Homo sapiens: one gene and its partner. The main gene of each other region encodes a partner of the protein of the gene in region 2 in a complex. Each region holds a gene or a part of one and is shown on either strand. Other genes may lie near its edges. A codon is read from its position in the direction of its gene.

Region 1 (15,548 bases), on a different chromosome or scaffold from region 2:
GAGGGGCCCAGCACGGAGACCTGGCGGCCAGGGCTCAGACCCACACATGCACAGCGGGGCCGACCAACCCTCACCGCCAGCGCTTCCACACCACCAACAAGCGAGCGGGGGCAGCCTGGTCATCGGAGCATCCTGGCCTCCATCCACCAGAGCCCCTGGCAGAGGGCCGCTGCCCCAGAGTGAGCAGGCCCGGCTCCTAGGCACACCTGCCCTGGCACCGGCAGCTCGTTACTCGCCATCTCCACTGTCCCCTGGTCCCCAGCCTTGGCCAGCACCCAGTGCCTCTAAGCAAGGAGCGGCCTGTCTGTGACTCAGCTCTGGCCAACGTGACCCAAGCAGAAATCGTGCAATAACTTCTGGGACGACATTTTCTTATGACCTTTTCTCCTGCCAGGCGATCATGAAGACCGTCCCTGGCGCTTCAGCAGCCACACTGGACCGTGAGGCACGTGGGGACCAGAAGCCATGCTGGGTGGGCCAGGCGGAGCGCAGGAGCCTCTGCGGCCACACAGCAGCTTCTCCCAGCGCCCGCCCGCCTGGCTCCCGGGCTTTCCAAACACACCATCTTCTTTCTTGGTGAAGCTGTTCTGTTTTTCTGTCTTTCACAGACATTCATCAAATCACAGAGGCAGAGGCAGAGGCAGAGGCGGGACGGTGCGTGGGGCTCTCCTCAGGCAGGTCCTTTCGTCACAGCCCAGCACCTCCACGCCGCAGCAGGGTGGCTACAGAAGCCTTGGGGTGCCCCGGCCCCTCTGTGCAAGGGAGACATGCAGGGCCCACTGGGGAAGGCAGGTGTGCAGAAGGCCAAGTCCAGGGGTGGACGGCGGACACAGAGCCCTTGGCAGCCTCCAGGCTCACGTGGGGCACACCTCCGACTGCACCGCATCCCGGAGAGCTGCATGCTCTGCTCACTGAGGTGGGGCTGTGTCCGCCACGGGGAAGAGACAAGGTACCAGGCGTTCCCTGGAGCCGTGTCCTGGGAGAGGGACTAAGCCTGTGTTGGGGAGGTCCCTGTGCAGCGTCTCTCAGCTGAGCAAAGGGCATTGCAGGGGGGCCTCCTGTGCCAAAGCTGTGGAGTGACTCACTGAACTACCAGCAGGCGCCCCCGACACAGGCGAGCTGAGCAGACCTTGCCCCAAGCAGCAGGGCCGGCCTCAGGTCTCGGCCACTCCCCTCTGTCACGGCCTCGGCCACTCCCCACTGTCACGGCCTCGGCCACTCCCCTCTGTCACGGCCTCGGCCACTCCCCACTGTCACGGCCTCGGCCACTCCCCACTGTCACGGCCTCGGCCACTCCCCTGTCACGGCCTCGGCCACTCCCCTCTGTCACGGCCTCGGCCACCCCCTCTGTCACGGCCTCGGCCACTCCCCTCTGTCACGGCCTCGGTCACTCCCCTCTGTCACAACCTCTGCCCAGCGCGGCGCCCAGCCGGGTACTTACACACTGGCAGAGCTCACAGATGAGAAACGCCCCCAGGGTGGCCTCCTCGTGGTTGTCCTGGATGTCCACATTGACCACGTGCACAGGCTGGCAGGTCTCCTGTTCTCTGGAATTCAGATCTGATTGGGACAAGGTGACACAGACGTCAGAGGCTCCAAAACCAGGGAACAGGCAGTCAATGTGGCTGAGTCCCCAGCTCTGCCGGCTGCAGGCCCAGCCCAGCCCCAGTGGTTTCTGGACTCTGCAGTTTGGGGAGCACAATGAATGAGCCTCAAACCGAAGGCGGCTGATGGTTCGAGGAAACCTGAGCAAATCTCCAACTCAGCACAAGCTGGTCTGGGACTCCCCACCCACCAGCCAGTCCTGGGGTGAACCGTGACTGGCATTGCGACCCTTCCCCGTCACTAAAGACCAGCCCTCCCTGCTCCACCGCCAGCTCCACACAGGGTCCATCCGCTTGAAAAATGGGCCTGGCGCGGTGGCTCTCGCCTGTGATCCCAGCACTTTGGGAGGCTGAGGCGGGCGGATCACTTGAGGACAGGAGTTCAAGACCAGCCTGGCCAACATGGTGAAACCCCGTCTCTACTAAAAATACAAAAATCAGCTGGGTGTGGTGGCACACGCCTGTAGTCCCAGCTACTCGGGAGGCTGAGGCAGGAGAATCACTTGAACCCGGGAGGCAGAGGTTGCAGTGAGCCTAGATTGTACCACTGCACTCCAGCCTGGCGACAGAGCACGACTCTGTCTCAAAAAACAAAACAAAAAAACACCAAGGAGAAAAGAGGCCCCTTGAAGCCCATGAGGCTGCAGCCAGCACATGGGTGGTTCAGCGACCAGCGGCCCTGCCTGCCTTCCAGGGTGCTTCACACTCAGGTCTGCTCCCCGGCCCCCGCCACTCTAGACGGGCTGTACTGGTCATGGTGGGGCCCTGCAGGCATCCCCAGACCCTGTGAGAGCTGCTGGAGCCCAGCCCAGCACGCAGCCGCCTCCTCACCTTCCACCACCTGGTCATACACTCTCTCTTCGCAAGTGAGGATCAGATCAAACAGGTCTTTGCAGTTCTGGAATCTTTCTGGCCGGGGCTTGATTCTCTTATTTCTGTCCAGCATATGTAAAATCCCATTCTGTGTATAGCTACACATGGGAGTTAAGGAACGTCAGAGAAAAGGCATCTGTGTATGAAGCCTGGAAGCGCCTGTGTCCTGGACACCCAGCCCCTTCCCTGCCCCACAGCAGAGGCAGCCGGGACGAAGGCCTGGACAGCGGAGTGGGCCATGCCCTGGTGAGGCAGGGGCCTCACTGTCCTAGGAGGTCCCACAGAAAACAAAGTGGGCGATGGCAGGTGCTTGCTCCTCGCTGTCCCCCAACTCGGCAAAAAGACCCAAGGCCCGCAGGACACCCCCCGCCCCCGCCCAGCATGACACCTTCTACCCAGACCTCTCCCCTCACTGCTGGCCCGGCCCAAGCTGCCCTTGGCCTCAGTCACTGTGTCTCCGCAGTCGGATCCTTCTTCCTCCCTCTGCTCCCTGTGCAGTGCATGCTGGCTCTGAAACCTCAGCCCTTCAGCAGAGACAAAGCAAACCCGGAAACCCAGTCCCCAGTCTAGCTCAGCTACAACAGAGTCAAGAACATCGGAAAACCCAAAGAAAGGAAGCTCCAGGCCGGGCGCAGTGGCTTATGCCTGTAATCCCAGCACTTTCGGAGGCCGAGGTGGGCGGATCACGAGGTCAGGAGACCGAGACCATCCTGGCTAACACGGTAAAACCCCGTCTCTACTAAAAATACAAAAATTAGACGGACATAGTGGCACATGCCTGCAATCCCAGCTAATCGGGAGGCTGAGGTTGCAGTGAGCCAAGATCATGCCACTGCACTCCAGCCTGGTCAACAGAGCAAGACTGTCTCAAAAAGAAAAAGAAAAAAAAACAGAAGGTTCAGCAGCAATCAGCCTGGAAAACGCTGATACAAAAACCAAGAGGGCAAGACAGTCGAGGAGGGAGATGCCACAGCCTCACTGACTATGGGATGGTGGAGGGCAGGATGAGGCCTGAAGGCACTTGGCGTCCAGCCCAGCTGAAAGGGGGCCTTGGGGTGAACGCTGACACACACCGGCCCCAGCAGTCCCAGGAAGGGGCCACAGGAGCCTCTGGGGTCCTCAGGGTGGGGCATCCTCCCACCATCCACAGTGGCCATGCCTGGCCTCAGGGGTTCCCAAGGAAGGGGCTCACTTCCCCAAAAAGAGAGACTGGGTTCCCAAAGATGAGCTCTGTGGTCTGCAGGAGCTCATTTGAGCCATTCCAGATGGTCAGGGACAAGTAACCACTTTCAGATAAACAGCCTAGCTGACAGGAATTCTAAGTGAACTCAGCTACCTTCCTGGGTAGCAAAAATAGTTTTTATAATAGTTTTATAATACATTGAAGTGGTTGATCTAACGGCATCTGACCCTGAGCTGCATCCTTGGGTCACTGTCAGCAGCGTGGAAGTCACACACCCACCCCTGACGTGTGTCTCCTCCTGCACATTGGAGTCCCGCCTGTGTCCCCGAGGCCCCTGGAAGCAGCTATGACACCCGGGTCCATCTCTGGGGAACTTAGTCCTTCAGCCGCTGAGAATCAAAGTCTGCGGAAAGAAGAGCTCGAGGCCGGGTGCGGCGGCTCACGCCTGTCATCCCAGCATTCTAGGAGGCCGGGCGTGGCGACTCACACCTGTCATCCCAGCACATCGAGAGGCCGAGGCGGGTGGATCACCTGAGGTCAGGTGTTTGAGACCAGCCTGGCCAAGATGGTGAAACCCCGTCTCTACTAAAAATACAAAAGTTAGCCAGGTGGGGCGGCACACACCTGTAATCTCAGCTACAGCTACTCAGGAGGCTGAGGCACGAGAGTTGCTTCAACCCGGGCGGCGGAGGTTGCAGTGAGCCGAGATCACACCACGGCACTTCGGCCTGGGCGACAGAGTAAAACTCCTTCTGGAAAACAACAACAACAACAAAAAAAAAAAAAAAAAAAAAAAAGGCCGGGCGCGGTGGCTCACACCTGTAATCCCAGCTACTCGGGAGGCTGAGGCAGGAGAAGCTTGAACCTGGGAGGCGGAGCTTGCAGTGAGCTGAGATCGTGACACTGCACTCCAGCCTGGGCAACAAGAGCAAGACACCGTCTCAAAAAGAAAAGAAAAAAAAGAGCTCAAGACGGCCTGACCTTGTTGTGTGCAGCCACATGCAGAGGGGCAGGTGCAGGGACCGGCTCACGGAGAGGAACCGGGGTCAGGGTGCAGGGGTCCAGTGGCAGCTTCATGGTGGGCACAGGGATCACCCTCCCTGCACATCCCTGAGCAAGACACAGCCGGGGGTGAGGCCGTGGGGGCTCCTGGGGATGGGACTGGTGTCACTGGCTGGCAGAGCTCATGGACGTTCAAGGCCAGCTCTTCCCTGAGGCCTGGACAGTTCTAAGTCCTTTCCTCCTTTACGTCATTCTCAACTATTTATGTAGATGAGGCAATAAATTAAGAATCATTCAGTTAAGGAGAAATGTCTACTTCAGGGACAAAGCAGCAGCCTCCTCAGCTACACAAGGATGAGCGAGCAGCCACCCTTCTGGATCTCCTGGCGAGGAGATGCGAGGTGAGGCCCCGCCCAGAGGGCTAGACCTGCAAGCCCCACCAGAGGCTGTGAGGACCTGAGGAGGACCAAAGGGACCACAGACCAAGCCATGAGCTCACAGGGACGCAAGATCCCACCTGAATTCCGGCAGCAAAACCACGGTGCCAGTGAGTGCCACGAGGCAAAGGCTCAGAGCAAGGCGAGAGGACAGGAGCCGCTGGCGGGTGAGGCGGGGCCTTCAATAGACAGGCTCAGGGCCACGGGGAGGCTGAGCAGGTTTCGGGCCTGCGTGCGAGAGCCTGCTCTTCAAGTCATGGGGAAATCCTTTCTGAAGGAAGAACCTAAGTACTGCCGGGCGGGAGGAAGGGGAGAGAGGCGCCATCGGAACAGAAACCTGTCCCATCTTCCGGACACCTGCGCCGCCCAGGTCCTGCAGAAGTCCCACTGACGCAAAGCGTTCGACATTGAACCCACAAAGAAAGAAACCAAAGACTCAGCCCGGGCAAGAAGGCGACACCAGGCGGAGGGCCTGACCCATGCTAGGGCCCCAACTGGGCATGAGGGCCTGAAACGTACCCAGAAAAGTGGGCCAAGAGAGGGCCCAGGGCAGGGCAGGCAAAGAGGATGTGCCATCCATAGAATCGACTGCCCCCATTGGACTCCCAGGGCCTGGACATCCGGCTTTGCACAGTCCCTGCGGCCTCAGGGACCACGTTCAGTAGAGGGCGGCCAACACCCGAAGGCCATGAAACAGAGGCACACAGGAGCCTCAGCTGAAGTTAACACACATCTAAGAAATAAACTCCCAGCTGGGCGCGGTGGCTCACACCTGTAATCCCAGCACTTTGGGAGGCTGAGACAGGCGGATCACAAGGTCAGGAGTTTGAGACCAGCCTGGCCAATATGGTGAAACTCATCTATACCAAATTACAAAAATTAGCCAGGCGTCGTGGCAGGCGCCTTAGTCCCAGCTACTCTGGAGGCTGAGGCAGGAGAATTGCTTGAAGCCAGGAGGCGGAGGCTGCACTGAGCTGAGATCATGCCACTGCACTCTGGCCTCGGTGACAGGAGCAAGACTCTGTCTCAAAAAAAAAAAAAAAAAAAAAACTCCCAAGGATGGGCCAAGAAAATTGTCCAGAGGTGAGATGTGGCAGCCACGGGGTGGGGTGCTGGGGGTGGGTGCAGTGGGCAGGCCCCTCCCCTGCCCTGGCTTCCACATGGACCGCGGTGAGGAAGGTAGCTCCGCTCACCCACTCTGCGTCCTCCCACTCGCCCCCGGAGGCCTTCTGGACTTTGGCGTAAACAGGAGGAGCAGGCCCATCAGACCCTTGAGTGAGATTCCCATGGGTTGAGCACGTGTGGCCAATCCCGAGAGGCCACCGGCCAGCATGAGCCAATGTCCTGGCCCTCCCTGCCCTGTTGGTGTCACTCCCGTCCCACAGTGACGTCTGGAACCCTCCCCCGGTGTGTGGCTGCATGGCCTCCTGAGTCTGGGGATGGGAGAATAAGGCTTGTGCTGGAGGCCTTGGGCTGTGACACATACCTGTGGTCCCAGCTACTCGGGAGGCCGAGGCAGGAGGATGCCTTGAATCCAGGAGGGACCCAGAGAGATCTGGAATATTGTCTCATGCAACAGAAAGTGTCATCAACACAGAATCACGTTAAAATTCTGTGGGGGACTAACCATCAGAGAAACAAACTAAGCTTTCTGTCCACACAGAGCAACAAAGAAACCCTGCCTCTACAAAAAATAAAAAATTACCAGCCTGGGGCCGGGCACGGTGGCTCACGCCTGTAATCCCAGAACTTTGCGAGGCCGAGGCAGGTGGATCACAAGATCAGGAAATCGAGACCATCCTGGCTACCACAGGGAAACCCTGTCTCTACTAAAAACACAAAAAATTAGCCAGGCGTGGTGGCAGGCGCCTGTAGTCCCGGCTACTCAGGAGGCTGAGGCGGGAGAATGGCGTGAACCCGGAGGCGGAGCTTGCAGTGAGCAAGATCGCACCACCGCACTCCAGCCTGGGGGACAGAGCGAGACTCTGTCTCAAAAAAAAAAAAGAAAGAAAAAGAAAAAAAAAGGCTGCAGCCAGGCATGGTGGCTCACACCTATAATCCCACCACTTTGGGAGGCCGAGGCGGATGGCTTATCTGAGGTCAGGAGTTCGAGACCAGCCTGACCAATATGGCAAAACCCTGACTCTACTAAAGTACAAAAATTATGGCTGGGCGCAGTGGCTCACGCCTGTAATCCCAGCACTTTGGGAGGCCGAGGCGGGTGGATCACAAGGTCAGGAGATCGAGACCATCCTGGCTAACATGGTGAAACCCCATCTTTACTAAAAATATAAAAAATTAGCCGGGCATGGTGGCGGGTGCCTGTAATCCCACTGCTCAGGAGGCTGGGGCAGGAGAATAGCTTGAACCCAGGAGGTGGAGGTTGCAGTGAGCCGAGATTGCGCCTCTATACTCCAGCCTGGGTGACAAGAGCGAGACTCTGTCTCAAAAAAAAAAAAAAAAGATGGCAAAACCCCGTCTTCTCTACTAAAAATACAAAAATTAGCCAGGCATGGTGGTGCACACCTGTGATTCCAGCCTCCTCCGGAGGCAGAGGCACAAGAATCACTTGAACCTGGGAGGGGAGATTGCCATGAGCCGAGATCACATCACTACACTCCAGCCTGAGACAGAGCGAGAGTGTCTCAAAAAAAAAAAAAAAAAAGTATATATATATATATGTATATAAATCATGGCATCCAAGACAAGTCCACATGCCACCCAACCAGCAGACAACCCCCGCCATCCTCCACGCCAGCCCGGCTGGGGGTAGCTGGTGCCTCAGAGGGGCCACCCTTCAGGGTTCTTGGCAACGTGTTATTCTGAATGTCTGCTCTTTTCTTTCGAGTTAAGGCACATTTGTTCAATTTTAATTCAGGCAATTTTCAGCAGACATGAGTTTAACCCTAACCATGACTTTCCTGGCTAAGCCTAATGCTTTTGACCCTCCAGCAATTCCCAGACACCAGCGGACACCACAGGCCCTTTGCCAGCACTCAGAGAATCAGTGCCTGGGCCCTTGCCTCTCGCCAGACCCCACGGGGCCTTGAGCCCCGGGCCCCAGGCTGCTGGCCCCCCTCAAGTGCCTGCCAGGGATGGTCCCGGGCCCAGGGAGTCAGGACGAGGCAGTGATCTCGCCTGGCAGAGCCTCAACACTGTTCTGTTGTGGGAGGAAGATGGAGGGAGGGCGGAGGTTTAGCAAAGCACCACACCAGGGAGGACAAGCCTGCCGGAGCCAGGGACCATGGACTGGTGCCGGCCGGAAGGCCTGGTGGTTCATCAGCAGGAAGGCTGCACCCACCACTCACTCCACTGAACCATCACCCACCACACGCCCCTCCCTCCCTGCTGGGCCTGGGAGGTGCACAGACCCTGGGGCATCTCGTGGTCTAGGACCTCCTCTTAAGCTGGACTGAGTTGGGCCCAGGTTTCTGCTGTGGACACATCCACCCCCCAGAAAGCTCCTGTCCTGCCAGCGCCCCCAGGCTGCCCGGGCCTTCAACAACCTCTACAGGGCAGAGCAGGCCTGGCTGCTTCCCCAGGCCAGCTGCACGGGGACCTTCCATGTGGGTTAAATGTCCACACCCCAGGCAAAGCCTAAAGCACACACTGGATCTGGACACACACTGCTCCCTGCAGGCAGAAACAAGGCTGCAGTCCCAGCCATGGAGAAGCCACACACGTCTCCCAGAGGCTGCGGGAGGTATAAATAGCACCATTTGTAGGAATGAAAAAACAGTAATGAAAACTAGAAAAATAAGCCCCACAGTAAAGACACTCAGTGTGTGGCCCACAGCTCTCCAGCCTGCCAGGCATGGGGAGGACCCCAGAGGCTGCAAAGGGAACAGCAGCAGGGTGAGCCCCTGAGCAGGCACGCTGGGCAGCTTCTCCCCAAATCACAGCACCCAAGCTGCTTTTGTTGGGCTACAATCAGCAAAAAATGAATTGAGAAGTACAAAGTAAATTTCACTTGCGATCAAATTCTACCTACGTGTGTGTGCCAGCTGCACCAAATGCTACCTGTACACTCAGATTCCCAGAGCCCATCCCCACTGGTCAGGGAGGGGGAGGCCTGACAGCTGCTGCACTGGGCGCTGCTTCCCGAGCTCCCATCCTGCCCACCAGCCTTTCTCGACCAGGGTCCCGATTCGCGGACGCCAACGGCCCAACCTATCTCTGCCCCAAATCCACGTGGGACACAGCACCCATGTCCAGGGACATCCTGAACGTTTTGCCCATCCTTACGCCAACGTCACATCGCCCCGAAGGCCTGAGGGAGGGTGGTGGGGCCCGAGGCCTGTGCTCACCCCATGCAGGCAGGGCCACGCCGGGCCACCACTACCTTTCCCAACAATGGCCCGGTGTGGGCAGCCCAGTGACTCAGATCCTGTCCATAATGCAACAGAGCACAGCAAAGTCAGCCCCTAAACTCATCAGGAACCTTCCAATTCAGGGGATCCCCAAGCCGGCACCCCCACATCTTCCACTAATGTATCAGCAACTCCCCTGGAAACCGAGTGTGAGGCTGACCAGCGTTCCGACCCGGCACTCTGCTACACGTGTGCAGCAGCAGATGCTCTGGAGGGCGCCGGCTGCCCCAGGGCAGACCATCCTCACGCTGGCCGCGTGGACGCAGGGCCACAGCTTCCTCCGCGAAGCCCTCTGCTTGCTCAACGGCACCTGCACAGGGAGGTGAGGTCACTTCCAGAGGCCCTGGGAAAACCAGAGAACTAGGCCGTCCCATTTTTCTCAAAGGTAACCACTCCCCACACAACTGGTACTTACACAAGTGGCTCTGCACAGTTTCTGTGATCGTCCCTGTGCGGCCTCCTCCTTAGGGACCGGGAGGTGCTGGCAGTGAGGTCAAAGGTCAGGGAGCAGGAACCTGCCTGGGACCCCCTTCGATTTTAGGGCCTCCTGACAAATGATCCGGTGTGACTGACAGCACCTTCTACCAGGGTCTTGGTGCCTGAGCTGTGCCCCACGCCCAGAGGGCGATTCCTCCCGAGCCCCCAGCTCAGAGCCTGAGCTCCAGGGCAGGGCCATCTGCCTGCAAGTGACTGCTCTCCATGGCCCTCAGGACGGTGTCTCCTTCCTGAACACTTTCAGTCAGCCTGAGGAGTAAACCCAACAGACGGCAAGATGGCATCACCACACACTATCTAGTCAGACTGAGGCTTAGTAGACTCTCAGATAACAAAAATGGTGGACTGGCCGGGCGCGGTGCCTCACTCCTGTAATCCCTGCACGTTGGAAGGCCGAGGCGGGTGGATCACTTGAGGTCAGGAGTTTGAGACCAGCCTGGCCAATATGGCAAAACCCCATCTCTACTAAAACTACAAAAATTAGCCAGAAATGGTAGCTAATGCCTGTAATCCCAGCTACTTGGGAGGCTGAAGCAGGAGAAACTATTGAACCCACGAGGCGGAGGTTGCAGTGAGCCGAGATTGCGCCATTGCACTCCAGCCTGGGCGACAGAATGAGACTGTCTCAAAAAAAAAAAAAAAAAAAAATTACTTTTTAAAGTTTTCAAGAAAAAGGTCTTAAATTGTGAATTATTCTGCAACACAAAACCAGACTAAACCCGAAACATTCCACTTGGAGGAAAGCCGGTCTCTGCACTGTGGCCCCATGGTGTCCGGCTTCACTTGGACAGAAACCCTGGATCTGTAACCGCAGCCTCACCCTCAGCACTGCTGCCAGCCGAGAAGGGTCTCCGGCTCGGCCCCTCTGTGCCCCCTCAGCAGACAGAACATAAGGGACTTCTTATCTCCACCCCAGGACATTCCAGTTATTTAGTTATTTAAAAAAATAATAATACAGTAGTTGTTTTGCCAGGAAATTCAGCTTCGGAATACAACCTTTTAAGGCTGAGGCAGGCAGATCACGAGGTTAGGAAATCGAGATCATCCTTGCTAACATGGTGAAACCCGTCTCTAGTAAAAGTACAAAAAACTAGGTGGGCGTGGCCAGGCGCAGCGGCTCATGCCTGTAATCCCAGCACTTTGGGAGGCTGAGGCCAGCAGATCATAAGGTCAGGAGATCGAGACCATCCTGGCTAACACGGTGAAACCCTGTCTCTACTAAAAATACAAAAAAAAAAAAAAAAAAAAAATTAGCCGGGCATGGTGGCAGGCGCCTGTAGTCCCAGCTACTCGGGAGGCCAAGGCAGGAGAATGGTGTGAACCCGGGAGGCAGAGCTTGCGGTGAGCCGAGACCACGCCACTGCACCTCCAGCCTGGGTGGCAGAGCGAGACTCCGTCTCAAAAAAAAAAAAAAAAAGGCACCCAGGCTGACAGACGAACTGGAGCAGGCCGCATCTGAAGGATGTCACCAGTGTGACATTCTCTTGACAATGCAGCTGAACTGTCTACTGAAAAAAACGGAGGATAAAGACCTCATCCAGAGGAGGCCAGTGGTCACTATGGACTGTCTCAAGCAGGGATCCTCCTGGGGACCACCAGACTACGTCAGTGGTGAGAACTCAGCAGGTCCGGGGGACGTCAGGTGGCCACGGAGACCACGTGTCAGTGGCCAGGGCCTCTAAAGAGAAACGAGGAGGAAGTGCAGCTCCAGGGAGTGGAGCGGTTGTGAGATTCACCATCAGCAAAAAGTGAAGCTGAGCACGAGGCGGATCCGGACCACTAAGGGGTCCCCACGAAGCTGAGCACGAGGCGGATCCGGACCACTAAGGGGTCCCCACGAAGCTGAGCATGAGGCGGACCCGGACCACTCGGGGGCCCCCACGAAGCTGAGCACGAGACGGATCCGGACCACTCGGGGGTCCCCACGAAGCTGAGCATGAGGCGGATCCGGACCACTCGGGGGTCCCCACGAAGCTGAGCATGAGGCGGATCCGGCCCATTTGGGGGTCCCCACGAGCCCTCGCTGACCACCCACACCCATTTGATGTGGTTGCTCTCAGGATAAACCACCCAGGGCCCCAAGGTGCCAGGACATACCAGGAAACGCCCCAAACACAGCTCGGTTTTCCTTACCAAGGTTTTCTCTTTTCACTCCCTAGGGGCCTTAGTGGGACCAGAACATCCCGGGGAGTTAGAATGAGCGCAGCTGCCCATCCCACAGGAGAACCGAGAGGCCAGGACCACACTACCCTGCTATGAGTCACCAGGGACTTGAAAGGGAACCCACAGGCACTGCCACGCCAGTGTGGCTGGCACCAGGGACCGCACTCTCCCACCACGGCCTGGGAAAAAGCCATGTCAGGTGCAGCACGCTGGCCACAGGCACTGGAGCCACGAAAGCAACAGCCCTGGGCAGCCCAGCACCATCCTGGGTTCCCTGCTGCCGGCGCCAGCCCCACGTACCCCCGACCACCTCAGCTCCTGGCCCTCAGCCTCTCCTTTGCAAACCGTGGCTGGCAGCAGAGACTTCCTTGACGTCAAGTCTCCTGAAGGTGTTGATGCTCCGTGGAAGCCTTGGTCCTTCCCCGGAAGGCCACACCATCTTCCCTGCACGTATGACTCATCCCAGAGCATGCTAAGTGCTGCTGCCCTGACAGACACACCCACGAGGGGGGCCAGCTATCACCTTATTGGCCAGATTGTCCCGGTAACTGAGTGACGGGACACACAGGAACACTGCAGAGCCTGACAGCCATGCCCCTGCCACACACACAGAAGACTCCCCACATCAGAGGGGAGGTCAGAGGTCTCAAAGGTCAGGTTAGAGCTGGGTCAATCCGTTTCCATGGCAAAACTCAAAGCACCGACACAGGAGGCTCCGGTATCTGTGCTCCTGGTGCATGGCGGGGATGAGACAGCCTCGGCGGCGCTGGTGGAGCTCCTGGGAGCCTCGCTCCAGCGAGGACAGAGCTGCAGCTCAGCACAGTGACTGCCCAGGGCTCTGACCCAGATGCCAACAGCCTGGGCAGTGGCACCTCGGCCAAGAAAGGAGGAACCAGTGCTGCAGGGGCCAGGTGGCGGCTGTGGCAGGCATGTCTGGAGGGAGTGTCGTGCATGTGGGTGACAAGAACAGCCGAGTGTGCCACAAGCGTGGACGGCAGCTCCGTACTCAGAAGGGCACGGTGAGAAGAGCAGGTGACACCGACACGGCTGTGCACAGCACGATGCTCTGGGCTCCCGGGATGGACTGGGATCCACTCACCACACTATGCCACAAGCTTGCCAGCTACCACTTCCATGTCAACGTATCAAGAAATACATCTGGGCCGGGCACAGTGGCTGACACCTGTAATCCCAGCACTCTGGGAGGCCAAGGCAGGCAGACTGCTTGAGTTCAGGAATCCAAGACCAGCCTGGGCAACAGGGCGAAACCTCATTTCTACTAAAAATAAAAAAATCAGGCCAGGTGGGGTGGCTCATGGCTGGAGTCCCAGCTACTCAGGAGGCTGAGGTGGGAGGATTGAGCCCAGGGACATAAGGCTACAGGGAGCTATGATGTTACCACTGAACTCCAGCATCAAAGTCAGAGCGAGACCGTCTCGAAAAAATAAATTCACTTTGAGGCTGGGCATGGTGGCTCACTCCTGTAATCCCAGCACTATGGGAGGCCAATGCGGGTGGATCACTTGAGGCCAGGAGTTTGAGACCAGCCTGGCCAACATGGCAAAACCCCATCTCTACAAAAAATACACAAAGTTTGGCCAGGCACGGTGGCTCACGCCTATAATCCCAGCACTTTGGGAGGCCAAGGCGGGTGGATCACAAGGTCAGGAGATGGAGACCATCCTGGCTAACACGGTGAAACTCCATCTCTATTAAAAATACAAAGAATTAGCCAGGCGTGGTGGCGGCGTGCCTGTAGTCCCAGCTACTTGGGAAGCTGAGGCAGGAGAATCACTTGAACAAGGTGAAACCCATGTCTACTAAAAATACAAAAAATTAGCCGGACGTGGTGGGGGGCGCCCGTAATCCCAGCTACTTGCGGGGGCTGAGGCAGGAGAATCGCTTGAACCCAGGAAGTGGAGCTTGCAGTGAGCCAAGACCACGCCATTGCACTCCAGCCTGGGCAAAAAGAGCAAAACTCTTGTCTCAAAAAAAAAAAAATTTCATTTTGATAGCGAATGCTTTTTTGGCAAAGCACAGAGGCTGCACAAACAGAACTCAGGAACCCCTCGAAAAGGTCTCATGGCCATCTCTGGAGCTGCTGGGCACCCAACTGTAACCGTGGCCTCAACACAGAGCCACACAAGGCTCAGGCCAGCTCTGGGGGGGTCCACCATGGCCTTGCGACTGCAGGCACCGTGAAACTACTTTGCAAAAGCATCTCACCTGCTGCAGACTAGGTGAAAACTCACAGGCTTGTGGGCCCTGACCCTGGGCTACCTCTTGAAGACGAAGGCACAGTCAGCACAGCTGCATTCTGTCCAGACCCTCAAATGACCACCAGCAACTACCTCAGCCAGTCAGCTCCGTTCTACCTCTGTCATCTCAGATGAGAAGAGCAGGCCAGTATCTCTGGCCTTACCTGAAATATCTTAAGGCCGTAATTTACATTTTAGGCATGAATGATTTTCTAAAACCCACGATCAGAGTTTCTCTGGGAATCGGCGTCTGGCTTAGGAACACATTCATTTGTTTGACAAATACCTTCCCAAAACTATTTTAAAACACAGCTGCTGGGCGGGACGCAGTGGCTCACACCTGTAATCCCAGGACTTTGGGTGGCCGAGGCGGGTGAATCACTTGAGGTCAGCAGTTCAAGACCAGCTTGGCCAACATAGTGAAATCCTGTCTCTACTAAAAATACAAAAATTAGCCGGGTGTGGCAGTGCATGCCTATAATCCCAGCTACTCAGGAGGCTGAGGCAGGAGAATCGTTTGAACCTGGGAGGCGGAGGTTGCAGTGAGCCGAGATTGCACCACTGCACTCCAGCCTGGGCGACAGAACAAGACTCTGTCTCAAAAAAGTAAATAAATAAATAAATAAATAAAGCTTCATATCAGCATTTCCTTTTTGGGAACTATACTATTCATCTGAATTAGCATATATATATATATGGGGCCGGACACAGCGGCTCACACCTGTAATCTCAAAACTTTGGAAGGCCAAAACAGGTGGTTCACCGGAGGTCAGGTGTTTTGAGACATGTCTGGCCAACGTGGTGAAACCCCATCTCTACTAAAAATACCAAAATTAGCCAGGCGTGGTGGTACGCCGCACCTGTAATCCCAGCTACTCAGGATGCTGAGGCAGGAGAATCGCTTGAACCCGGGAGGCAAAGATTGCAGTGAGCCGAGATCACGCCATTGCACTCCAGCAGGGGTGACAGACTGAGACTCCATCTCAAAAAAGAAGTCTACCACATTTTACTCTGAGACAAGGAAATGTCCACAGGGAAGTGGCCACACACAGAAGTTAACCTAAAAGACAATGAATTCAGAGGACGGACATGAACAAATGTGCAATTTAAAACACAGGCCAGGTGCAGTGGCAACCCCTATAATCCCAGAGCTTTGGGAGGCC
Region 2 (15,548 bases):
AAAAAAAAAAAAAAAAAAAAAGACAAGTTAACAGAAGCCAGATCAAAGATGGCTGACTAAGGCAAGTGGAACTTAAATTTTACTTGAAGGAAGTTGGAGCCAGGTAGCAAGTGAGGGTTGGGCTTCAGGTGAAAAGGGTGGGCCTGGCCCAGGGTAAGTGCTACAGGGGTGGAAAAGAGGGCAAGGATTAGGGAGAGAAGGAAAAGAGGTTCACTCCCAGGTTTCTGGTTTGGGAACTGGGAGGGGCCTGGAGAGGAGCGTGGGGAGAAAGTGGAAAAGTGTAGTTCTGCCACATGAGTCTGAGGTGCTCCTGGGACGTCCAAAAGGAGGATGATCAGAAGCGGGTTGCATACCCAGGCCTGAGGCTCACTGATGTAGTCTGGATATTTGTTCCTTCCCGAATCTCATGTTGAATTACAATCCCCGATGTGGGAGGTGGGGCCTGGTCGGGGGTGTTTGGATCATGGGGGCAGATCCCTCATGGCTTGGTGCTGTCTTCAGGATAGCGAGTTGTCACAAGATCTGGTCATTTAAAAGTGTGTGGCACCTCCCTGCTCCCCAACACTCCCTTTCTCCTGCTCCTGCTCTGCCACACGAGATGCCTGCTCCCCCTTCACCTTTCACTATGATTGGAAGCTTCCTGAGGTTTCCCCAGAAGCTAAGCAGATGCCAGCACCACGCTTCCTATACAGCCTGCAGAACTGTAAGCCAATTAAACCCCTTTTCTTTATTAATTAGGAGGGTACTCTGGAGGAGGTGGATGGTGTGAAGTGGAGGCAGGTGAAAGACCGAGGAGATCCTTCCTTCCTGCCCAGGGGGAAAACGCTCCCCACCCATCCTCACCAGATTAGCCACATTATCAGGCGTCAGCAGAGGCTGCAGGAACTCAGCTGTGATGTCCGTGTCTGACTGGCCGGAGATCTGCGCTGAGGCCTTCGAGGTCCCCGACGGGCCTGGCTCCAAGTCTTTGTCCTCATCGTCCTCCCCCAGGTTGGGCTCTGGGATGAGGGAAAAGAACAAGATGCTGGCTATAGAGAGAGCTGCAGGCCCTCCATCCTTCCGGGGTGCCCGGGTGGTCCCTGCCTCTAGTCAGCCTCAGCAAACAGGAGCAAACAGCGGATGAAGATCCAGGCTGCAGCTCTGCCTCTGGTGCCAAACCACTTTATGACCCTGGGCAACTACCTGACTCGTTCTGAACCTCAGATCTCCTGATCTGGGAAATGGGAGTAAGCCACACCCCTGCAGCTTATCATAAGCTCTAAGAAGAGATTATTATTATTACTATTTTTTGAGACAGTCTTGCTCGTCACCGAGGCTGCAGTACAATGGCATGATTTCGGCTCATTGTAACCTCCGCCTCCCAGGTTCAAGTGATTCTCCTGCCTCAGCCTCCCAAGTAACTGGGATTATAGGCATGCGCCACCAGGCCCAGCTAATTTTTTTGTATTTTTAGTAGAGATGGGGTTTCACCATGTTGGCCAGGCTGGTCTCAAATTTCTGACCTCAGGTGATCCACCTGTCTCAGCCTCCCAAAGTGCTAGGATTACAGGCATGAGCCACCACGCCCAGCCTGGTGCAGTTTTTTAGAAGGCACTTTGGTAATGGCTATCAAGAATGTACACTCGGTACCTAAGGGCACACCTGGGCTCAGACCTTGATTTCTGAAACTATTCCCCACTTAAAGGAAACCAGGGTTCCTTAAAAAGAAAGACTGATTCCAGGGCTGGGGCAAGGACAGTACAAGAGGAGTCTAGAACATCTTGTCATGCTAGTAAGTAAGTGAAATGCTCAAAACAAATTCCTGATAGTAAGTGGGAAGAAGAAGAGAAAGTTCTTCCTTACAGCAGAATGTCAACTGATAAATGTAGAAGGAAAATCTCTTTGGAGCCAGTATAGAATAATAGACTCAGGCAACAATCATCACTGGATGTTAAAACCACTGGGTGAGGCTGGGCGCAGTGGCTCACACCTGTAATCCCAGCACTTTGGGATCATGAGGTCAGGAGATCGAGACCATACTGGCTAACACGGTGAAACCCCGTCTCTACTAAAAAAAATACAAAAAATTAGCCGGGCAGATGGCGGGCACCTGTAGTCCCAGCTACTCGGGAGGCTGAGGCAGGAGAATGGTGTGAACCCAGGAGGCGGAGCTTGCAGTGAGCCAAGATTGCACCACTGCACTCCAGCCTGGGCAACAGAGCGAGACTCTGTCTCAAAACAAAACAAAACAAAACAAAAAAACACAAAAAAACCACTGGGTGAACGTTTAAAGAGAAACATGTATTTTACATAGTTTCAAATATCTCCCCCAGCTTATTACTGACAAAGATAAAAATGGCACTTGACACTAGAGAAAGCTGGTTGAAACTGTGTTAACCAAGCGTTCAAAAGTTAATATCTCCAACAATGGGACACCATGTGCCTCCTGATCCCATGTACTGAGGCAACCAGGGGATCACCTGAGGCGGGTGGATTACCTGAGGTCAGGAGTTTGAGACCAGCCTGGCCAACATGGTGAAACCCTGGCTCTACTAAAAATGCAAAAAAATTGGTCAGATATGATGGCGCGCACCAGTAGCCCCAGCTACTCGGGAGGCTGAGGAGGGAGAATCTCTTAAACCTGGGAGGCGGAGGTTGCAGTGAGCCAAGATCAGGCCACTGTACTCCAGCCTGGGTGACAGAGCGAGACTGTCTCAAAAAAAAAAAAAAAAAAAAAAAAAGACAAATTTGGTGGGTAAAATATAACTTTAAATATACAAACCCTGGCCAGGTGCAGTGGCTCACGCCTGTAATCTCAACACTTTAGGAGGCGAAGGCAGGCAGATCACTTGAGGTCAGGAGTTCAAGACCAGCCTGACCAACATGGTGAAGCCCCGTCTCTACTAAAAAGACAAAATTAGCTGGGCATGGTGGCACATGCCTGTAATCCCAGCTACTTGGGAGGCTGAGGCAGGAGAATTGCCTGAATCTGGGAGGCAGAGCTTGTAGTGAGCCAAGATCCCACCACTGCACTCCAGCCTGGGCAACAAGAGTGAAACTCCATCTTTAAAAAAAAAAAAACAAACAAATACAAAAATTAGCCCGGTGTGGTGGCATTCGCCTGTAATTCCAGTTACTCAGGAAGCAGAGGTATGAGAATTGCTTGAACCCGGGAGACAGAGGCTGCAGTGAGCCCAGATTACACCACTGCACTCCAATCTGGGCAACAGAGCAAGACTGTCTCAAAAAAAAAAGGATGAGGTAGATTTCTATAAAGAACTCCAAGATGAAAGTAAATGAAACTAAATGAAAACAAGGTACAGAATACTCTGCTTAGTATACTTAATTATGAAAAAACATAGTAAGATCCCTACCTCACTCCTTAGATAAATTCCTTTTTTTTTTTTGAGACGGAGTCTTGCTCTGTCACCCAGGATGGAGTGCAATGGTGCAATCTTGGCTCACTGCAACCACTGCCCCCAGTTCAAGCAATTCTTCTGCCTCAGCCTCCCAAGTAGCAGCAACTACAGGTGTGCACCACCACGCCTGGCTAATTTTTGTATTTTTAGTAGAGACAGGGTTTCACCATGTTAGCCAGGCTAATTTCGAACTCCTGACCTCAGGTGATCCCCTCAACTTGGCCTTCCAAAATGCTGGGATTACAGGCATGAGCCACTGTGCCTGGCAATTCCCCCCCCACCTTTTTTTTTTTTGAGACAGAGTTTCACTCTTGTCACCCAGACTGGAGTGCAATGGCATGATCTCGGCTTACTGCAACTTCTGCCTCCTGGGTTCAAGTGATTCTCCTGCCTCAGCCTCCAGAGTATCTGGGATTACAGGCATGCACCACTACACCCAGCTAATTTTTGTATTATTAGTAGAGACGGGGTTTTTCCATGTTGGCCAGGCTGGTGTCAAACTCCTAACCTCAGGTGATTCACATGCCTTGGCCTCCCAAAGTGCTGGGATTACAGGCGTGAGCCACTGCGCCCAGCCTAATTCCTTATTTTTTAAAATGAAAAAATAAATCTTTCGTAAATGCTCTAGAAAAAAAGTGTGATTTAAGAAAAAAATCTTAAAGTTAAGAAAAGCCATAGTTGACACTATTGATAAATAATACAACCACTAGAAAATTACTTCAGAAAGAAAATTATCTGATAACTAAAACAAAGGAATGAAAGAAGAGCTCCACACTCTACATAAAGCACTTCTGGAGGAAAACATAAAGAAGTGTTCACACCTGGGGAGTGGTTACTTCTTGGGAGAGGGATAAGAGGGATACTATTTTCATTTTATTCCTTTCTGTAAAATTTAAATAATGCATAATTTATTAAACGTATATTTTGATAATTCTATTGTAATTTATATATCATATTAAATACTGTAATTTATTTTTATAATTATTTTATAATTTTTTAAAATTAGAGACAGGGTTTTGCCATGTTGCCTAGGTTGGTCTTGAACCCCGGCCTCAAGTGATCTGCCCGCCTCAGCTTCCCAAAGTGCTGGGAATACAGGTGTGAGCCACTGTGCCTGGCCCACATAACATAATCTATAATATAATCTTAGTAAATACAAATTCAGCATAGTTTAAGGTAAATAATGAAACATTTCAGCATGGTCTGCCTGCCCCACCCCACCAGCCCCTCTCACCCAGCTTCATCTTCTTGAGTGTGGAGTCCGAGTCATCGCGGGGCCGCTTGCGGGTGTCCTTGCTGCTCGGCATGTTGCGGGCGATCTCGGCCTGAGGTGTGCCCAGGTCCACCAGCAGGGTGGTGATCTGGGCCTGGAACTCCAAGGAAGCCGGGTGCTTCAGCACACTCAACAGGTGCAGCTTCAGATTCTTACGCACACTGCTCACCTGCGATTTGGCCAGCGTCGGGGGCAGGTTGGCTGTGAGGAAAGTGGCAGGAGCTGTGTCTTGTGGAAGATCTCATGGCATGCTGCCAGTCTTAATTCTCAACCCCAAACTTGGGCAGTGGTCTTGCAGGCATCTACTAGAAAAGTTCCTTCACCCTCAGATCTAACGTGTGGCTTTCCGCCTTACAAGCTGATGCTTCAAACCCTGGGGGTCTCCATCAGTATCAGTCAATCTTAAAGAGAAAAACTCACCCTCTCTTTTAGTAAATACATACAATTTCGTCCTCCTCCATCTCTGGTCTGGAAATTCACATATGCTTCGCTTGGGGAGGGTTATAATCACCACTTTTGCCTCCAGAAACCCCCAACTGAACTGCTGCAACAGCTCACTGCTAGTCTCCCTGACGCCAGGATGACTTTCTAATGGTCACCCTGATAAGTGAGCCTCCCCTGTTCCACAGTGAAAAAGGATGCCTGTAATTCTGCCTGCCTAGCATCCACTGCCCCTTCCTCAGCCAACAACACAACCCACTCTCCGTTAAGGGAGACCCCCCTTCTCCAGTCTCCTTCCGAGTGGGCATGAGACCTGGGGCCAGTGAGAATACCACATTCCCTTGGCCACTGTAATTGGCTCAGAGACTGGCTCATAATCTCTGCTCAGCCAATCAGAAACAATGACCGTCAGCCCTTGGACTTCTGCTGGAATGGTTGGGAAGGAGACACTCTCTTTCCCATGGTGTTGCTAAGTGAACGGAATGGGAGCCATGAACTATGGGGGGCCATCTTTGCTACCCTAAGGAAAGGGCCAGAGAGTGAAACTAAAATGGAGAAACAAAGAGCTGAGAGATGGAGAAATGCAGATCCACGACCTGTACGCATTCATACCCCAACCCCAGACTTCTCGGTTTTCGTTTCACAAAACAGAGAAAATGGTATGAGTCTCTGTGTACCCATCAACATTTCGCTAATCTTGGAACATCTATCCTCCCTTTTGGTGGGGGGAGAGGACTGGAATATTTGAAAGTATTTCACAGACATCATGTCATTTCACCCCCACATACCTCAATATTAAAGCCAGTCCTGAATCAAGTTTCTGTCACATGCCAAAAGATTCCTGTCTAATGTAGAGAATCTCAGGCCTGCCAGATGGATGACTAGCGCTCGGGGTCCACCACGGAGCTACATTTCTTTAAGAATGAGCAGGCTGAGGCCGGGTGCAGTGGCTCACACCTGTAATCCCAGCACTTTAGGAGGCCGAGGCAGGCGAATCACAAGGTCAAGAGATAGAGATCATCCTGGCCAACACGGTGAAACCCCGTCTCTACTAAAAGTAAACAAATTAGCTGGGTGTGGTGGTGTGTCCTGTAATCCCAGCTACTCGGGAGGCTGAGGCAGGAGAATCACTTGAACTGGGGAGGCAGAGGTTGCAGTGAGCCAAGATTGCACCACTGCACTCCAGCCTGGTGACAGAGCGAGACTCTGTCTCAAAAAAAAAAAAAAAAAAAAAAAAAAAAGAAAGAGCAGACTGGCCAGTGAAGAGAAGGCAGGGGGAGGGGGGAGGACAATGACCTACCATGCAGAGTTTCATAGGCCTGGATCACCTCAGACATGAACATGGGTCTCTGGCGGGCGATATTGGCAAGGGAGCCCAGCGCTGTGGTCAGGTTGATGGAGGAGATGGCAGGGTGCACCATGAACTTAAGCAGCTGCTCCAAGGCTGCCTTGCCCTCTTCCCATAGCACGTCTAAGAGACAGAGAGGAGAACCAGTCAGTGGGATCCGTTTTCCCAGGCCTCTGGAGACAGCAGCTTTTGGGACTAAAAGGAAGGACAGATCCTGGTACCTAGATGTCTATGAATGGCGGGAAAAACAGAAAATGTGGTGGTTGATTAGTTCTATGAGACTATTAATGAGTATAAAAATTTAGTTATAAGGGGCTAGACGCAGTGGCTCATGCCTGTAATCCCAGCACTTTGGGAGGCCAAGGCAGGCAGATCACTTGAGGTCAGGAGTTCAAGACCAGCCTGGCCAACATGGTAAAACCCCGTCTCTACTAAAAATACAAGAAATTAGCCCAGGTGTGAAGGCCTGTGCCTGTAATCCCAGCTACTTGGGAGGCTGAGGCAGGAGAATCGCTTGAACCCAGGAGGCAGAGGTTGCAGTGAGCCGAGATCGCGCCACTGCACTCCAGCCTGGGTGACAGAGTTGGACTCCATATTAAAAAAAAAAAAAATTTAGTTATAAAGATGTTCAAAGCATGGGCTTGCAATAGTGAAAGACTAGAATACATGTGTATATACACACAACTCAAAGTCCCTTGTGACACCACTCCCCTCAATACAGTCCCCAAAATTAATGCTTAAAACTTTGGTGGATATCTTTCCAGACCTTTCCTATACAGAAACATAACGAATGCCATATATATGTTTTTAACTTAAAAAATTTTAATGGGTATATAGTAGGTGTAAATAATTATGGGGTACATGAGATTTTGATACAGGCATGCAATGCATAATTATCACCATCAGGGTAAATGGGGTCTCCATCACAAGCATTTATCCGTTTTGTTACACACAATCCAATTATACTATTTCAATTATTTTAAAATGTATGATTATTTTTTAGTATAGTTACCCTGCTGTGCTATCAAATACTGGATCTTTTTTTTTTTCCCTGAGATGGGGTCTCACTCTGTCACCCAGAGTGGAAAGCAGTGGCGTGATCTCGGCTCACTGCAACCTCCACCACCCAGACTCAGGTGATCCTCTCAACTCAGCCTCCTGAGCTGCTGAGACCACAGGCACATGCCACCATGCTTGGCTATCAAATACTAGATCTTATTTGTTCTAACTATTTTTTTGTACCCATTAACCATTCCCACTTCCTCCCCAACCGCCCATTACCCTTTTCAGCCTCTGGTAACCATCATTCTACCGTCTGTCTCCATGAGTTCAATTGTTTTCATTTCTAGCTCTCACAAATAAGTGAGAACATGCAAAGTTGTCTTTCGGTGCCTGGCTTATTTCACTTAATGACTTCCACTTCCATCCATGTTGTTGCAAATGACAGGATCTCCTTCTTTTTTATGGCTGAATAGTATTCAATTGTGTATGAGTACCACATTTTCTTTATCTATTACTCTGTTGATGAATACTTAGTTTGCTCCGAAGTCTTGGCTATTCTGACTAGTGCTGCAATGAATATGGAAGTGCGGGTTATCTTTTTGATACAGTGATTTCCTTTATTTCGGTTACATATCCAGCAGTGGGATTGCTGAATCATATGGTAGCTCAATTTTTAATTTTTTGAGGAACCTCAAAACTCCAAACAATTTTTAGGCTGTAGTAAGTGACATTCTCACCAACAGTGTACAAGTGTTTCCCTTTCTCCACATCCTCGCCAGCATTTGTTGTCTTTTTGATAAAAGTCACTTTAACTGGGGTGAGACATTTCATTGTAGTTTTGACTTGAACGCCACATTATTTAAAATAGTGAATTAGGCCGGGCGCGGTGGCTCACGCCTGTAATCCCAGCACTTTGGGAGGCCGAGGTGGGCAGATCACGAGGTCAGGAGATCAAGACCATCCTGGCTAACACAGTGAAACCCTGTCTCTACTAAAAATACAAAAAATTAGCCGGGCGTGGTGGCGGGCACCTGTGGTCCCAGCTACTCGGGAGGCTGAGGCAGGAGAATGGCGTGAACACGGGAGGCGGAGCATGCAGTGAGCCGAGATAGCGCTACTGCACTCCAGCCTGGGTGAAAGAGCGAGACTCCGTCTCAAAAAATAAAAGTGAATTAAAAATCTAAATGACCATCAACAGAGCATTGCTTAATAGAATGTAATGTAACTATACTATGGAATATGGTATAGCAACTATATGATTCTCACAGGGAAGGACGTCACTGATACTATTAAGTCAAAAAGGCTGTCAAACAATACATAAGAATAGTTAATATTTATGGAATGTTTACTATTCCAGCCATATTAATACACCAAATGCTCATACCTACATCCTAAATTAGATGCCATAATAACGATCCCCAATTTACCAATGAGGAATCAGGCTCAGAGACAAGGGAAAATAGGCTGTGTGTCAGACACAAGCTACTATAATGTCTCTGAGATGAAAACACAAAGCATGGCCTCATTTTTGCAAACAGAAAAGCAAACAAATGCAGACACTATGCATATACACATACAAATACCTACATGTGCACAGGAAAGATCTGAAAGGAAACATAATACTCTTAACAGTGTTTATCTCTGGAAAGCAGGACTGAGGGAGGGGACATTATTCCTTTTGATTCACCCATATTGCTTGACACCAAGTGTATATATAGTACTTTTTTTTTTTTTGAGACAGTCTCATTCTGTCACCCAGGCTGGAGTGCAGTGGCACAGTCTCAGCTCACTGCAACCTCTGCCTCCTGGGTTCAAGCGATTCTCGTGCCTCAGCCTCCCAAGTAGCTGGGATTACAGGTGCCCGCCACCATGCCCGGCTAATTTTTGTATTTTCAGTAGATAAGGGGTTTCACCATGTTGGCCAGGGTGGTCTCGAACTCCTGACCCCAAGTGATCTGCCTGCCTTGGCCTCTCAAAATGCTGGGACTATAAGCATGAGCCACCACACCTGGCCTATGTCCTACTTTTATAATTTGCAGTTAAGAAAACTGTAAAACTGCCCGGCGCGGTGGCTCAAGCCCGTAATCCCAGCACTTTGGGAGGCCAAGGCGGGCGGATCACAAGGTCAGGAGTTCGATACCAGCTTGGCCAATATGGTGAAACCCTGCTTCTACTAAAAATAATTTTTAAAAAAATTGGCCAGGTATGGTGGCGGGAGCCTGTAGCCCCAGCTACTTTGGAGGCTGAGGCAGAAGAATCTCTTGAACCCGGAAGGCGGAGGTTGCAGTGAGCTGAGATTGTGCCATTGCACTCCAGCCTGGGCGACAGAGGAAGACTCCATCTCAAAAAAAAAAAAAAGAAAACCATAAAACTAGCTAGCATCGACTGGCTCACACTCATGGAACTTCACTACAAACCTGTGAGAGTGGTACTATGTTATCGTCTCCAATTTACAAAAAAGAAAATGAAGTACAGAGACAGGTAACTTGCCCAAGTTCATGATGAGTAAGCAGTGCAGCTGGGATCTGAACCTAGCACCAGGGATCTTAACTACTGCACACACTGTTCCAGAAATTTAAAACCAAAAAAGACAAGGGGGAGAGAGGGAGGGGCGTGAAGGAGAGGAAACTGGTGCAGGGCTGTCAGGGGTGGCAGCTGAAGGCAGTACTCACTGTACTGGATGTAGGGGTGGTCACGAGGGATGCGGTCCAGGCTGATATCATGCTCCTGGCGTCGGGGTATCTCTGAGTCAGCCATGCGGGGTGACAGGGTGACAATGAGGCCCTCCACAAACTTGATGGCGTGGGTGCGGATGCCGTCATTGTCAGAGTCCAATAGCAGGATGATGTCCCCCGCCATGGCAGATACCATGTCCCAGCAGGCCTCCTGTAGCTCGCTAATGACCCGTGACTTTACCATCCACTGCCAGCAGGCCAGGAAGGAATGGAAGAGACACACAAAGAGGTGAAGACAACGCATCAATCACCAACACCCTCTGCCAATACCCAGAGAACCATGAATGATGAATACATTCATTTGGTTAACAGTTACTGAGTTCCAACTCTGCCCCAGCCCAGTGCTCGGTGATGCTGGAGACAGGACTGAGTAGTGGCCAGGCCTCGCCCTGCCCTCATGGGGATGCAGAGAGTGACCACTCAGTGTGATGAAGGCACACATCTTCAGGGTAAAGGACTAACAGTGCTGACTTCACAAGGTGGTGGTGATTAAATGGATTCATTCGTTTTATTAATGCTAATGTACATCACACCATAGAGTGTTCTTTTCCTATCACACTCCATAATCAATATTTATGTGATTCATTAATTAAGGTCTACCTCCCTCCTTGGGTTATGAGCACTGTGAAGGCAGTAAGCTGTCTTGGTCACTGCTGTGTCCCCAGCATCACCTAGCCCAGGGCTAAGCACAGAGGACATACTCAGGGAATGTCTGTTGAGTGAATAAACGGATGGTCAATGGAAGGAATGAAGGTTAAGTGCAACTTCCTGACCTAGGAGACAACGTTAGCTCTCCATGTTATCTGTTCCCACAGACCAGTGGCACATCTTGCCCATAAAGAGTATGCTCGGATGCTGGTTTTGAACCCCAACATATTAGTTTGTCAACGAGACATATCAGGCAGGATGGCCCTGGGTGGGGAGGGCGCTCTCACCTGCAGGGCCACCTTGTAGAGCTGGGTCATGGTGAGGATAGCCTTCTTCACCACGTTCACATTCTCGTCCCTCAAGAGCATGTTGAGGTTTGCAATGAGTTTCAGCAGCAACTCAATGTCTCGCTTGCTGAGGGATGGAGAAAAAAGGGGCGAGGTCAAGGTGTGGTCTTAGAGCAAGTAGGAGGAGCCTGAGGTCCAGGAGGGAAGGGAAATCAGGGACCTGTCTCAGGGGACCGGAATGGCACATCCAGAAGCTGGGAACAGTGCTTGGTGCCTCCAGACTGAGCCGCCCCTGAACCCTCTATCTAGACTGGTCCTGTAACACCAACTCCTTTGCTCTCTCAGGGCCCTGCTGTTCACATAAGGGACAGTAGGGGCAGACAACTGTGTGAATTTGGACAAGCGACTTCACCTCATTTAGAATAATAGTATCTATCCAATTGTTTATGCAATTTTTTGGGAAAATTGCAACAATACTTGTAAAGTGCTTAGAAGAGTGCCTGACATGCAGAAAGCATTCAGTAAACACCAAAAAGCATTCGGTAAACACCAGCCATTGCTACTTTAAAGCACTTTGTTTTCTGTAATCACTAGTTTTGCTTGCCTCAGTCTGAGGGCTCAAAAAGTAGGGACCCTTTCCTAGCTTGGCAATAACCCCAGCAGGGTCATTTTCATTGAAGAAAAAAATGAAGGGCCTCCAACAAATGTTCAATGAATAAATAGGAGCTCAGCACAGAATTTTCACAGCATACATTACAATCTGAAATATTAATTAAATCAGTCAAAAAATATGAAACTTAGCTGTCAGCTACATGAAGGCAGGAATAATACGTTTTTGCTCACTGCTATACTACAGCCTAACATGGATGCCTGGTACGACAGCAGTCACATGGTATGTATTTGCTGAATGGACTTTTTACAAATTCAGAAAATTTACCACAAATTCTCCCAGTAAATGGGGAGATAGGATATTTGGGTTCTGGCATTGCAGACATGAGTTAAAATCCCAGCCTTGGCCAGGCGCAGTGGCTCACGCCTGTAATCCCAGCACTTTGGGAGGCTGAGGCAGGTGGGTCACCTGAGGTCAGGAGTTTGAGACCAGCTTGACCAACGTGGTGAAACCCCATCTCTACTAAAAATACAAAATTGGCCGGGCATGGTGGCGGGCACCTGTAACTCCAGCTACTTGGGAGGCTGAGGCAGGAGAATCACTTGAACCTGTGTGGTGGAGGTTGCAGTTAGCCGAGATCGCACCATTGCACTCCAGCCTGGGCAACAAGAGCGAAACTCCATCTCAAAACAAAAACAAAAACAAAAACAAAAAAAAACAACAACAGAAAACAAAATTAGCTGGGTGTGGTGGCAGGCACCTGTAATCCCAGATACTCGGGGGGGCTGAGGGAGGACAATCACTTGACTCAGGAGGCAGAGGTTGTAGTCAGCCGAGATTGCACCACTGCACCCCAGTCTGGCCGACAGAGTGAGATTCCATCTCAAAAAAATAATAAATAAATAAAATCCCAGCCTTGCCACATTCTGGCTGTGTGACCTTAAGAAAATTCACTTCACCTCTCTGAGACTGTTTTCTCTTCAGTTAAAGGGTCAAACAACTGATCCATAGTATTACGAATAATGAAGCTGCTCAAGCATTTAATACAGTGCCTTACAAACAAATATTTAATACACAGTAGCTAGTCTACTTCCTCCCAGTCACAAAGCATCCAGTAAAGCTTTAATAAACAAATGAGCAAGTGACCAGCTTGAACAAGTCACTTGACCATTCTGAGCCTGTTTCCCTTTCTGTAAAAAGAGGATAACCACAGTATCCATCGAGGCTGCCATAATTACGGAGATAACACGGGAAAGGACCTGACACAGCGCAGGGCACAGTACGTGTTCCATGTGGTGACTGTTATGTTCAACTCATTCACGTGTGCAACAAATACGTAGTCAGCCCCTACTAGGTGACAACACTGCTCCAGGCAGGTACTGGGGACAAAGTGGCCAGCAAGACAGAAAAAGTCAAGCCCCGTCCTCACAGAGCTGATATTTTGCGGGAAGAATCAAGGTTATTTCAATGAGTGAGGAACACTGTAAAGAACAGTGAAGGTGGGGTGCCTGAGACATGGGGCTGCATGGGAGCGGGCAGGAAGGAATTTCTGAGGAAGAGACCTGAGGGAAGGGAGGGGAGAGCCAGGTGGCAACCTGGGGACGAGGGCCCCTAGCAGGAACAGCAAGCAGACAGGCTGCGAAATCCAACTGTGACTTCTGAGGAGCAGGGGAGACAGAGAGGATCAGAAGTGAGATGAAGCCGAAGTGAGAGTTTGGGTTTCCACCTAAGTAAGCTGATGAGCCAGCTGGGGTCTGAGAGCAGGGGTGTGCCAAGACTGATTTACATTTAACAGCGTCACTCTGGCTGCTGAGTGCAAGAGTGGAAGCGGGAAATGAGTGCGGTGATTCCTCTTTGGGGGATGAAATGCCCTGGAACGAGATTGTGAACGTGCTAAATGCCACTCACTTGTTCACTTTAAAATAGCTGATTTTTGCTGGGCGTCGTGGCTCATGCCTGTAATCCCCGCACTTTGGGAGGCCAAGGTGGGCCAATCACTTGAGGTCAGGAGTTCAAGACTGGCCTGGCCAACATGGCAGAAACCCCATCTCTACTAAAAATACAAAAATTAGCCAGGCATGGTGGCACGCACCTGTAATCCCAGCTATTCAAGGAGGCTGAGGCACAAGAATCTCTTGAGCCTGGGAGGTGGAGGTTGTAATGAGCCAAGATTGCGCCACTGTACTCCAGCCTGGACAACAGAGCAAAACTCAGTCTCAAAAAAAAAAAAAAGGCCAGGCACAGTGACTCACACCTGTAATCCCAACACTTTGGGAGGCCAAGGCGGGCAGATCACCTGAGGTCAGGAGTTTGAGACCAGCCTGGCCAACATTGCAAAACCCCTTCTCTACTAAAAATACAAAAATAAGCCGGATGTGGTGGCGCATGCCTGTAATCCCAGCTACTTGGGAGGCTGAGGCAGGAGAATAGCTTGAACCCGGAAGTCGGAGGTTGCAGTGAGCCGAGATTGCGCCACTGCACTCAAGCCTGGACAACAGTTGAGCGAGACTCCGTCTCAAAACAAACAAACAAACAAAAGATTAAAAAAAAAAGCTAATTTTGTTATATGAATTTCAATTTAACTAAAAAGAAAAAGAAGGGAGCCAGAGAGAGACCACTGAAGTCATCAGGTAGGAGGAAAGGGTGGCTTGGGCCTGCATAGTGGCAGAGGAAGTGATTGACAAACGGTCAGATGCTACAGATATTCTCAAAGTGGAGCCCACAGTCCTTAGTGATAATGTAGATGTGAAGTGTGGAAGAAGCAGAGGAATCACAGATGACCCCAGGGTTTCCATCTTATTAAGTATTTGCTGGGGAATCAGTGTGTATGAGAGAGAGAAAGGGTCTGGGAAGCAGAGGGCAGGCCTCTCAGTGGTGGCCTCCAGGCCAGGCCACGAGCTGAAGGCTGCCACCAGTGAGAATGCTCCCGGGGCTCCGTGCCTCGCCCCATACCATGCCTCCTCGATGAAGCCGATGACAAATTTTCGCACTTCGATTGACTTGTCTGCTTGGAATGCGATGATCTCCTGCCAATGTTAGAGAGAAAGTGGATCAGGGCTACACAAGGATCCACATCCCCTTTCCCCTACACCACACCCCTTTCTCTTCTGTCAGTCACTCACATCCAGGAAGTTGTCCAGTAGTGTGGGGTCTTTGTTGATGATCAGCTCCTGGACCTGGAAGGAGATTGGGGGTGGGGAGGAGGAATACCCATATAAAACGAGGGGCCAATCAATGCAGACAGGAGAGTAGAGGGGAAGACAGCAGAGGGCTAGGCAGCAGATACACTCATTTCAATGCCTGGCTCTGCTTCTCCCTACCAAGGGTGCTATGCTCTGGGCATGGTCTCTGAACCTCAGTTTGCTCTTCTATAAAATGAGACTCTTAAACATCAACTCAAAAGGGATGTTAGGAGGCTACAATGAGATCCTACAAGGCACAGGTCCTGGTAGATAGTGAGGACATGACACAGGAGGGGGCTGAAAAAAAGAGGAAAGTGCCCCAAGGCTCAGGCCTTCCTGAGGTTTGGCCTCCATTCACCTGTCCATCAGTTCTCCCCACTCTCCTTCTGCTTCTGCTCCCTACTTCACATTGCCATGATTCAGCAAACATCTTCACAGTGAGAACCCAATTCCTGAAGCCCTTGTGCCTGCCAGGCTCTTTGGAGTAAGCCCTTCCCATGGACATCCTCCAATAAGCAAAGAGCTGGCACAGGACCTGGCTGCTACAACTCAAGCTACTATTGCTAAACGGCCTCATGACCACCCATGGGGGAGGCACCAGGTGCATCCACTCCACCTCGGAGG

Evidence for each region.
Region 1: the proteins of SYMPK (region 2) and SSU72 are in contact, whole or in part, in a crystal structure (PDB 4H3K), measured with the Homo sapiens proteins. Residues at the interface, in NP_004810.2 of Homo sapiens: Val123 (codon at 11,192), Lys127 (codon at 11,180), Leu131 (codon at 11,168), Gln135 (codon at 11,156), Asp175 (codon at 10,288), Asn176 (codon at 10,285), Asp177 (codon at 10,282), Gly178 (codon at 10,279), Thr181 (codon at 10,270), His182 (codon at 10,267), Lys185 (codon at 10,258), Glu188 (codon at 10,249), Pro204 (codon at 10,201), Arg205 (codon at 10,198), Arg206 (codon at 10,195), Gln207 (codon at 10,192), Ser250, Ile251, Thr254, Thr255, Asn262, Ala290, Ser292, Gln293, Ser295, Ser296, Lys299, Asn300, Leu303, His304; in NP_054907.1 of Homo sapiens: Glu113 (codon at 2,463), Tyr116 (codon at 2,454), Asp117 (codon at 2,451), Val120 (codon at 2,442), Asn124 (codon at 1,555), Glu127 (codon at 1,546), Gln128 (codon at 1,543), Glu129 (codon at 1,540), Thr130 (codon at 1,537), Cys131 (codon at 1,534), Gln132 (codon at 1,531), Pro133 (codon at 1,528), His135 (codon at 1,522), Asp167, Glu169, Asn170, Asp173, Gln177, Glu180, Thr186, Phe187, Leu188, His189, Thr190, Val191, Phe193.

Annotation. Positions count from the first base shown.
Region 1 is NC_000001.11:1,542,428-1,557,975, forward strand, and holds part of SSU72 (RNA polymerase II subunit A C-terminal domain phosphatase SSU72), read right to left. Parts: intron 2,576-15,548; coding exon 2,436-2,575; intron 1,561-2,435; coding exon 1,442-1,560; intron 1-1,441. UniProt on the Homo sapiens protein: Protein phosphatase that catalyzes the dephosphorylation of the C-terminal domain of RNA polymerase II. Plays a role in RNA processing and termination. Plays a role in pre-mRNA polyadenylation via its interaction with SYMPK.
Region 2 is NC_000019.10:45,837,618-45,853,165, forward strand, and holds part of SYMPK (symplekin), read right to left. Parts: intron 14,919-15,548; coding exon 14,865-14,918; intron 14,769-14,864; coding exon 14,695-14,768; intron 11,260-14,694; coding exon 11,133-11,259; intron 10,385-11,132; coding exon 10,135-10,384; intron 6,584-10,134; coding exon 6,413-6,583; intron 4,873-6,412; coding exon 4,633-4,872; intron 999-4,632; coding exon 844-998; intron 1-843. UniProt on the Homo sapiens protein: Scaffold protein that functions as a component of a multimolecular complex involved in histone mRNA 3'-end processing. Specific component of the tight junction (TJ) plaque, but might not be an exclusively junctional component. May have a house-keeping rule.